Linked DNA regions of Homo sapiens: region 2 is linked to region 1. The links come from fine-mapping of genetic effects on gene expression. A gene starts in region 1. The other region holds a variant in brackets. All regions are shown on one strand. Distances are between the middles of the regions.

Evidence for each region.
Region 2: its variant is fine-mapped to the expression of GIN1 in whole blood (INTERVAL, PIP 0.92).

The regions. Positions count from the first base shown.
Region 1 is chr5:103,117,098-103,122,489 of GRCh38, forward strand. GIN1 (gypsy retrotransposon integrase 1) reads right to left here and starts at 3,041. Exons shown (of 8, transcript NM_017676.2): 1 at 2,967-3,041. It overlaps PPIP5K2 (diphosphoinositol pentakisphosphate kinase 2), which reads left to right and starts at 3,204. Exons shown (of 31, transcript NM_001276277.3): 1 at 3,204-3,391. RefSeq lists enhancers at 2,177-2,678, 2,679-3,179, 3,015-3,274, 3,305-3,494, 3,545-3,604.
Region 2 is chr5:102,781,935-102,787,326 of GRCh38, forward strand. All of the region lies in intron 1 of PAM (peptidylglycine alpha-amidating monooxygenase), which reads left to right. Among named protein-coding and RNA genes, the nearest start is that of PAM, 29 kb to the left of the region's middle. The variant A/G (reference allele first, on the strand shown) is at 2,631.

The sequences.
Region 1 (5,392 bases):
TTAGAAGTTTTATTCATATCAGCCAAAACCTGAAAACAAATGTTCATCAACTGGTGAATGGATAAACAAATTACAGTAGATCCACATACTGGAATACTATTAAGGATTGATAAGGAACAAACTATAAATAGACCTAACAATATGAATAAATCTCAAAATCATTATGCTAAGTGAAATAAGCCAGACACAAATGGCTATATATTTTATATTTCTGTTTATATGACATCTGGAAAAGCCAAAAGTATAGGAAGAGGAAATAATTTTAAAAAATTAAAAATTTTAAAAACAATGCCAACGCAATTGCACTGCATAAGAATGTTTTGGTCAAGGATGGACTGCCTATTGGTCCCGTAAGATGATAGCAGAGCATATATAGAACCTGATATAGGTCATTTGATATTAGCACTGCAGATCAAGTAGGAGAAATAAATGATACCCAATAATGTGCAGGGACATTTGGTTCTCTATATGAAGAAAAAAATATACACACACACACACACACATATCATCTAGGTTCATGTAGGTAGAGTCTGTATTCGTGCAATGCTGAAACTGCCTAACAAAGCATTTCTCAGAATTTATTCCATTGCTAAGTGACTCACGACTACAGCTGCAAATAGTTATGCAGTATTTTACTATGATAATCCTCACAGTACTTCATGAAGTAGGTATTAGTTTTATATCCATTTTACAGGTAGGAAAATGGAGGTTCAGAGATTGTCCAATTTACTCAAGGTAATAAAGTGAGTACATGCGCTGACACTTTTAACTTGGTGTCTCTTACTTCAAATTTCACGCTTTTCCCCCCTGCTATACCAGTAAGTCAATTACTTGTTATCCTTAGCTTTTATAATACTTGGTTCAGGCCTCTGTTACACAAATTATAAAGTGATTTTTGTAATCAATAATTTAGATTATAAATGAGGAATGGAAAGAGTTTATTAATTTTTTATGTTTACATTGTTTAACATAATGTTCAGAACACAGTGGACACTCAACTATTTGTGAATGAATAAAGAATTACCTGCATTTCCTGAAAGGAGAATTAAAAATTATAGCAAATATTCCAGAGGTAAATTATTTCACTTTTGAAAACATTACAGTTCACTTTCACATACATGGCACTATAAGTAAACTGTGTCTAAGAAGGTATAGACTTAAGCCTTAGTATCTATGTTTGGAAAAGGACATAATATCTATCCCTTTTTTGCAATTACGAGGATGATTAAAAGTCCTTTGTATATGGTAATGTATAATTATTATCATATCTAAGTATTATCATCCATATCAGGCTGTTTAAAGTAACATAAAACCCTTTCTTTTCCCAAAATCTTCACCTACATGAAAAAATATTTTAAAATCTCTTTCCTTTCATTAATGGTGTTAATGTTTTATAGCAATGTTTATAAAGCTTCAGTGCTAAGAAGAAAATAATCAGAAGACTCACGAATTGTATCCTTTTATAACGATATAACAGTCTAATGCAGTTCACAAACTGCTGGTTCTGGAGGTAGAGAGACAGATGACAAGGAGAAATAGAAAATGCGTAAGAAAGAAAACTCAGTTCACGAAAAGCATAGCCTTTGAAGTAGTTAAAAGTTTTACTGCTAATAATTGGTATTCATATACAAAAGTAACGTAAATGAAAGTTGTTTTTTTTTTTTCAAAGCCCATACATATGAGAAAATGGCTTGAAACTGTAATATTCGAGACAAATATAAATATCTTCTTATACTCTGATTGCTAAGTAAAGGTATCATTTACAAGGGGGATTAAGTGGTTTCTACTACATAAAGAAAGACTGTCCTGGGACTTCTTTGGATATGCTCATATTTTCAAGAATTTCTCTTAAAATCATTACTTAATGTACTTAAACATGTAGGAATAAGAAAAAATGAAAGTGATTGATTACAACTTGTAGTTTTGCAAGAGGAATGTCAGGGTCACATTTGGTTAAGCTTTATACACTTTGTCCCCTCCATAAAAGCAAATAAAATCAACTCATTGCTTAATTCCTTTAATAATTTTGTGTTCAATAAAGTAAGGCAGTTAGGTATTATGTCAAGATTAGGACTTAACTGTTTCACCAAGGGTTAAAAACAAAGCCACCAATTTAAGCCCCTAAAAGGTTATAATACCCGCTGGTTCCATCTTAAAATCTGCAATTTTCAATCAACATGTTAACTTGGATCGGAATTCTGACATTTGAATTATTCTATTTTAAGCTCCAAAAAATGGACACGCACAATTTTATGCAACGTCAAGGACCTGTAAATTTAAATACACTTCTCTGTAATCTGGTTCACTTCAGAGTACAAATTCATTGAACAAAAAAATGCCTTCATCGCCATATGCATTCACATGAAGCCACATGGGATAAATGCATTTCCACTTTAAAAAGTATCTACTTTGGTTCAGAAATGCCCATTTAAGAAAAACCTACACTGAGATAAAGTGGACATTTTTCTTTTAAAACTACGTGACAGGATTCCCTCTTGACCTCACGTTTCTCCCCGCCACGTATTTAAATTTGGGGCAAAATTTCTGATTAAATGACTGATCAAAGTAATGGGGAGAATTCTTCAACGCCGGCCAAAAGTGCTTAGTCTCAAACGCTGTGAGGGAGCATTTCCTAAGCTTTGGGCGACTCGTTAACGGAATCTTAAGGGCAAGGTCCAACCACACTCAGAATCAGCAGGAAAATGACCGTTTGGTAAAACTCAATTACACCCAGTAGGCACCTCCCCAGGCCCGAAACAGCACTCGCCCTTTCTGCTCAGCTAGCGCGGGACATCGCAACGCCCAAGGCCCTCCTATCTCAAAGGCGCTTGCGCAAAATCTCCCCACAGACTCAATTAAACCCTTCCTTAGGCCGGTCGAGGCGAATGGTTTTGAAATTACTGTCGGGTTACGCCTCACTTTAAAAAACAGTAGGTATGACACAGCACACCAGAACGACCACTCACCGAGGTGGTCCTAAATTCAAACGACAGATTTAAGCTTCCTCTCGTGATTTATCTCGCGCTGCCGGAAGCGGAACTACCCGGGTCCTTTAGAGGGCAGTCCTTTGGGGAACCTTGGAACCACGGTCAGAAAGGTTAGGACTGATCATTTGGCTCTTGCCGGAAATCGTTCCGCCCGGTGAGGTTTCGGCGTGAGACCCGAGGAGGGCGGGGAAGAGGCGTGACGGAGATTCCTGAGGTGTAGTAGCCTGAGGTTCCCTTATGTGGCCCTATAGCTGTTACTGAAGGAAGTAGCCTACGTCCACGCCTACAACTGAAGTCTCTTGACAAACACCTCACCCCTGCCTCCGGGATGAAAGGGGGTAACCTAGACCTGAATGGGCTTGACCATCTCACAACTGCTCGCGTGACGACCGCATTCGTGGCAGGTGAGGGCCCAAAACCGGAGGAGAACCGGAGATGCGGAACCTGATCATGCCAGGGTTGAGGCGGCTGCTGGGCTTCTGCTTTGTCTCCTGTGCTCTGCAGACCCTAAACACATGCTCCACCGAGGGGCTTGTGCTGGAGAGAATGACAGCCTGGGCGTGGAGTGACAGTACAGCTTTGAGGGTCCTTTCGCGCCTTGATTTCTCCTCCTGCTCCCCCATGGCTTCCCTTTTTCATTTCTTGGGTTCGAGACGCCAGAAATTGAAGATCAGCTAAAAGGGAACCGCTGAGCTTCTACCCCACGCTGTGCCTGGCTCCACTGAAGTGATTAGCCTCGAGTTATGGGACTGCTGTGGGTAGAGGTGGCTTTTTAAAAAATTTTCTGCCTTAGTCTTTATCCCTCTCTCTGTCAACCCCACACCCACTTTAAAATAACAAAAGCCTCATGTGTTGCAGCTTTTCATAGTAGGGACCGAGGCTGCAGGGCACTGCCGCACCTAGTCATTTGGAGGTCGTTGCAGCCTTCTGCGCCTTGAAGAAGAAGGGGCCAGGGTGATGATCCCTGGATCTCATTCACGAGGTTCTTGACCACTTCCTGGGAGATTGCGACTCTTGGTGTCCTTTGGCTAGTAGTTGTCTTGCTGGAAGGCTTAACTGTGGAAGTGGGAAGCATAGCTGACCTTAGCACGTAAAATCCTCGCTCTACACTGGGACAGGATTTTGTTTTGCTATTGAGAATTCTTAAATGAAATAGATAATTTTTTTGTCTCAGATAGATAAAATAATAACGATAGTTGCCATTAACTGAGTCTTATGTGTGCCGAGTGCTTTACATAGTTTGTCATTTATTCCTCTCAACAATTCCAGGAGGTATGTTAGATTATTATCACCATTTTACAGAGTTAGAAATGGAGGCTTTGAACAGTCAAGCAACTTGCTCTATTAAACATTTGTTATAAGTAAACGTTTGAATCTGTGTTAAAAACCAGATCTGTCTGCCTTCAAAATCTGTATTCTATTGTCCTGTCCTGTTCTTCCTCGATTTCAATTTCTTCACTAACATTTTCAGTGTCTGAAAGTATCCATTCATTTAAAAAATTTTGGTGTACCTACTTATATGTCTGACAAAAGTTAGACATGATCTCTGTCTTTATGGAGCATTGTGATGCAGAATTAAGTAGTGCAGAACCCAGAATACTGTACTTACTGCAGCACAGGTTTATTTAAAGCAAATGACTAAACTGATTTGCAGAAAATTTTAAAATCAAAGGTTGCTGTTTTAAATGTTAAATTCATATGACTTTCAGAGTAGTTGTTGTGAGGGTATTAAACTGAACAATTGGTAGAACATCTGTTGATTACCCAAATAAGTGCTATGAACCAAGTTAAGTAGTGGGAATATATAGATTAGGTCCTCATTCTTTAAAAGCTCCCATGCAACCACAATATAGACAATGTTATGGACTATTAATTTTCTCACGTGGAAAAGGAATTGTGGTTATGTAGGAAGGTGTTCTTATTTTTAGCAGATACATACTAACGTACTTAGAGTTGAAGTGTGTTGATATCTAGTACTTTCAAATGGTACAGCAAGTGTATGTGTGTGTATGTGTCTGTGTGTATAAATAGCAAATATGGCAAAATGTTGGCAATTGTGAGTATAATGGTGGGCATATAGATGATTAACAAACTGTTCTTTCAACTTTTCCGAATATTTGAAATTTTTCATAATAAAAAGTTGGGGAGGAAAAAACCCAACCCTGATGGAAACAGATAAGTGAAAAGATAGATCCAAAATGCTGCGGAACATAGAAGATGGGAGAGGGTTTTTATGTGTATTTGGGGCCTAACAGAAGTGTGATAGTTCTCAGGAAAACCTTCACTGAAGACCTTTCAGTTGGTTTTTGAATGGCGGATAGGAACTTTCAAGGAGAGCAGTGAATTCCAGGCAGAAGGAAATGCAGGTTCAGCAAAAAGATATTAAATGAACGTTTGAAGAAGGA
Region 2 (5,392 bases), 340 kb before region 1:
CTTAAAAAAGCTTGCCCAAGGTCGTAAGGGTAAGTGGCTGGTCTGCGATCTGAAAACAGCCAGTCTGCAGTCCACATCCGTGTTCTTGTCCACTACTTACTCCAGCCTTAAACTTTGAACTGAATAAGGATGGATTGGTTTTGTATCCTTGCTCATGAAATGGATATTCCTAGGAGCTCAACATTTGGAGAATTTCAAACCTGAACACTTTAGAACACATTATGTTTTCTTCAAAGAGTAAATCATACCTCACACTTCTCCAACATTTACACCAAAGGTGAATTTGCTCTTTATAGGATATAAGAGCTTCTTTCATCTTGTCCATATCTGAAGCACTTAAAGCAGAACTCTGGTATGAAGTTCATAGCCGGAACGAATCCAGATCTAAATTGAAAGGATTATACAAAGTCATCTTCCTTGTTTGTTTCACCCTTTGTTTTCCCCCCAGAGGAAGGAGAGAAGATTTTGAAATCCTTTATTGCAAAATGAGTTTGAAATAGATACAAATAATAAATATGATTGACAGCTATAGAGGAGAAGGAAAAAACTTGGCTCTTGTTTTAGAAAGATACTTGAAAGGAAAACATCTATGTTTATTGAGAAGTGAGAAGTACATGCAAATCTTTCAAACATAATATTTGAAAGTGAAAATCACGTCATAGGATTTAGAGATATTCCCAAAGTCAATATTTGGTTCTTAAGTTCCAGGTAGTGGAAAAGTCAGAATCAGTTAAGTACCCAGAGCACTTGCTCCCTTCCTTTCTCCATTTCTCTCTCTCTCTCTCTCTCTCTGTGTGTGTGTGTGTGTGTGTGTGTGTGTGTGTGTAATTTTATTTATTACTGGTGAAACTGGTACAGGCAACATGTTGGCTTTTTTGTCAATCAGTTTTTTTTTTTGAGAAATTTTGCTTTTGTGAAAAATCTGCCTTTTCAAAGTTTTCTTTCCTTCTATTATACTCCCCATATTTTTGGTGTATCTGAGATGCTAATGGCCTTTCATTTTCAAGTTTTTATTTCCCAGTTGGCAGTACCACTTTTACACTTTGAAGATGGAAACTTGGCAGGAAAATTGTATGTCAGGGTGTATTTCTGTGTGGGGTTGCAAGGGCAGGAAAGAAAAAAAACTCAAATAAGAGGTATTTTCATTGAGTATGATCTTAGCTGGTGGCATATATAATTACCCAGTTATTTCTCTCATGAAATGAATGTTTATATTTGTTGTCATGACCAGGATCAGCTACACAGTTTGTGGGGCCCAGTTCAAAATGAAAATGTGGGTGTATTACCAGATTTAGCAAAAAAAAAAAAAAAATAGAGATGCCCAGTTAAATTTGAATTTCAAATAAACAATAAATAATTTTGATTATGTCCAGAATATCCTGGGACAAATATGATTCAGTTTTCTATCACCATAAATTAGTTTAAATGACCATTGCTTAGATCTGTCTTCAATTTCAGTGAAAGCAAAGGTTAAAACTCATCTGAGTTGCAATAGAAGGTGTTGCCTAGAATCATTGATTTTTTCAATACCAACACCAGTATTTGGAATCATCCCTTTATTTGGTCCCCACTGAAGTTTTCCCACCGTAAGACAAGGTTCATAGTAAAACTAAGCCTGAAGGCCTGGGTGGGAGAAAATAATTTGCAGATTCCAAATTCAGTCTCAGTACAATTTTAGGAACGAATATATATGAAGACCAAAGATCTAGAAATTAATTCTCTTTAAACTACCTCTGTGCCAGTTTGCATACTGGAATGTCTTTGAGTATCCCTTGGGATGTGCATGCAGCAGTATGAGGGCCACTTAACTAGAATGGAAAAGGGGAAGATGAATAGAACCCAGCGCCTGCCGTCAGGGAGCATACCAGCTGGAGGGTGACAGCCTCAGGAAGACCTAATTGTAGAACACTTGAATGGTTTCCCTCTCCTCTTGGATCAAGTTCAAAATTCTTCATGATCTACCCCCATCTTTTTTTTTTTGAGGTGGAGTCTCGCTCTGTCACCCAGGCTGGAGTGCAGTGGCGCAATCTCGGCTCACTGCAAGCTCCGCCTCCAGGGTTCACGCCATTCTGCCTCAGCCTCCCAAGTAGCTGGGACTAAAGGCGCCCGCCACCACGCCCAGCTAATATTTTGCATTTTTAGTAGAGATGGGGTTTCACCGTGTTAGCCAGTATGTTCTCGATCTCCTGACCTTGTGATCCGCCCGCCTCAGACTCCCAAAGTGCTGGGATTACAGGCGTGAGCCACCGCGCCCGGCTGATCTACCCCCATCTTTCTCTCTGTTCTTACCTGGTGCTCCTCTTCTCCCTGTGTAACCTCTAAGCTCCAATCATACCAGCCTTTCTGTCCCTAGCACACCTAAGCTGCTCCTGCCTATGTGCTATTGGGTCAAGCTGTTTTGGTGGGCTAGAATGCGCTTTTCAGTTTCCCCCCTTGCACCCACACACCTTAGATTTCAGGTTTCCTTGGCACCGTAAGCTTGGAAAAATTTAGGTATCACTGTTGTAAGCTCTCATATGACCCTGTCCTCCTCCTTGTACAGTACTTATTACAAAAGTCACTAACGTTTGGTATTCATTACCTTAAACTCTGATTACTTTTGTGCTGTTCACTTTCTGAGGACAGGTACC[A/G]TCTCTGTCTTATCTAACCAGATATTCCCAGCAGAGAATGTAGCCTCTTCCATATTAAGGGTGAGTCATACATATATGTAGAATTGAATTAAAAATATACTCAACGTATTTGTTGAATTGAATTGATGTTAACATTTATGTGAAACATGACTTTGTGTCAGTCACTGGCGGGCATTTACTATATATTATCTCATTTAATTCACACAAAATCATTTGGGAATACATGCTTTTAGATAGGCAAACTTTATTATTGTTGTTATTCGTTTACTAGGAATTTTTAGGCAAAGCAAGTGCATAAACACCAGGTGAGTGGTCTTAAATGCCATGTTAAGGATTTGGAACTTTTTACTAAACACCAGTGATTCTCCATACTTTAGGAAATCAGAATCACCTGGAGGATTAAAAACAACAAAAAAGCAATGCCCGCATATAATTGGTTTAGGATTCAGCAAGTCATTTTATAAAACTTCCCCAAATAGACTTTTTTGTTGTTGTTCTTTGTTTTTTTATACTTTAAGTTCTGGGATTCATGTGCAGAACATGCAGGTTTGTTACATAGGTATCCCAAGTAGTTTTAATGCACAGCACTGATTGGGACACTAAAAAGTAGTGATGCTAGCCCAGCAGCATTAACACCACCTGTGAACTAGTAAGAAATGCAGATATCTGGGCCCCTTCCCAGTTTCACTTAATAAGAAAAGGGAGGGGGGAGTCCCCAGCAATCTGTATCTTAGCAAGCCTTTCAAATGAATCTCATGCCCTTTAAAGTTTGAGAACCTCTGTTATAAACAATTGGAAACTTAAAAAGCTTTGTACTTTTGTGTTTTACAAAAGAACTTTGGTAGATACGTGGGAGACTGAATAAATAAGGGACAAACCAGAGGGTAAGGCAACCTGTTAGAGCTGTTACCTTTAGAAGTATCATGTGGAGGTAAGAAGATGGCAATAAGAACTAGAGTGGTGGTTATAGGAAGGAAGGAAGGTGGTGGGATCAGGAGATGTTTCAAAAACAGAAATGGTGAAATATGGTGACTGATTGGCTTGAAGAGGTTGAGGGAGAGAGTGAGGTCAAAGAAAATATAATTTCTTTCTGAGTTAGTTAAGTGACATCATGAAACAAGGCAGAAATGTGTTTAGAAAGTGTAAGTTGGGGGAAACCATAAAAGTATTGAATATAAGGTGTCTTCAAGCATCTAGTAAGAGATGTTTTTGTCTCGTTGGAAATTTGGTTTCTGGAACTTTGGAAACAAATGGGGAGTAAGGAGTGGTGTTGGAAGTTCTCACCATTGTATTTAACTTTTTAAAAATCATTCATTCAAGTGGTTATATATGTACTAAATTATTTTTTTAACATGTTCGTTTTATTTCAAATTGAGCCAAAGATGTTGAACTTTACACAAACTATAATCTCTTACATTGGATCATTTATATGAAGTTATTTTTAATAATTATTAGAATTTATGGAATATGTTAGCAGAATTATGGTAAAGCAAAGTTTGCATTTTGTAAATTTACTGTTCCATTCTTGGGTCAAGTGTACAGTGAACACATTCATTTTCAGAGAAAGAACTGAGAGGACACAAGCAAGAATACATTTCACATTTCAGCTGTTAAAGGAGGCAATTTTGTGTCATGTAAGCTCACAGATCCTGGAGCCAGACTGAGCTCTGTCCACATGTAGAAGGTGTGACTTTGAACAGACGTTACTTAAACTCTGAGCGTCTTCATTTCCTAATATGCAAAATGGAGAAATTAGTATTATTCATCTCAGGCTTTTTGTAAGCATTGAATGAGTTAAAACCTGTAAAAGTACTTTGAATAGCGCCTAGAATTTAATTCGTAATCATTAGTGTAAGCTCTTATTAATATCAATTTTTTATTCTCTACTTAGTCTTATTTTCTAAATCGTTGCTATTAACAGTTTCTGAGTTTTTTAATGTGGTTTCTGTTAGTTTTATGAACTGCTGAACATCAAAGGGAATGATTATAAACTAGTGATTTCTAGGAATTAAATTTTGAACCATTCATGGAGAAAATGGAGAAAGGCATCACAAATGTAGTATAATTTCTAAATAAATAGCAACTAAAAATTACTTTCCAAGTTAGACACATGCCATTTTTTAGGTCAAAGTTGCGGGTCAGAAAGGTACTGGGCTCCAGATTCTTCACAGCTTGAAATCTTACTTCATTCATCATTCTGAGCATAGTCAGTAGCAAATCAATAATTTACTTGAAAAGAAACAAGTAACTTACTACTCTTTTGATATGTGGTATAGAGGTCAAGAATATATCTTAAAAACTCTATATCAAAAGTTATAAATAAGATAACTACCAAGCAAAGGCTGATTATAATTAATAATAATAATGATAAATCCCAGCAGATATATTTGACCCCTGTAATGAGAAGAAGGTAACACCTCTGGAAGCAGAAAAAAATCTTACTCTCCCATCTGAGATTTGTAAATTAAGGCTGTTCATTACTGCTGTTGAATTATAATGATCTGAATTTCACTTAAAATCTCTTAATTTAGAAATCATTATGCTGGTGGAAAGGCCAAGGAGAAATGCTTCATCCTTAGCATTTTATTTATCCTCCTCAAAATAGTTTTACCATCCTTATTTTTCAATCTATTTCAAGTGGGGTTGGGAGCTGGCAGAAGAAGAATAGATGTAGTTCTTGGTATTTGCATCTCTAGGTCCCGCCAGACCCACACAGCTCTTCTGACTTGAGCATGTTCCAGCCATGTTCTAAATGTAGCTAC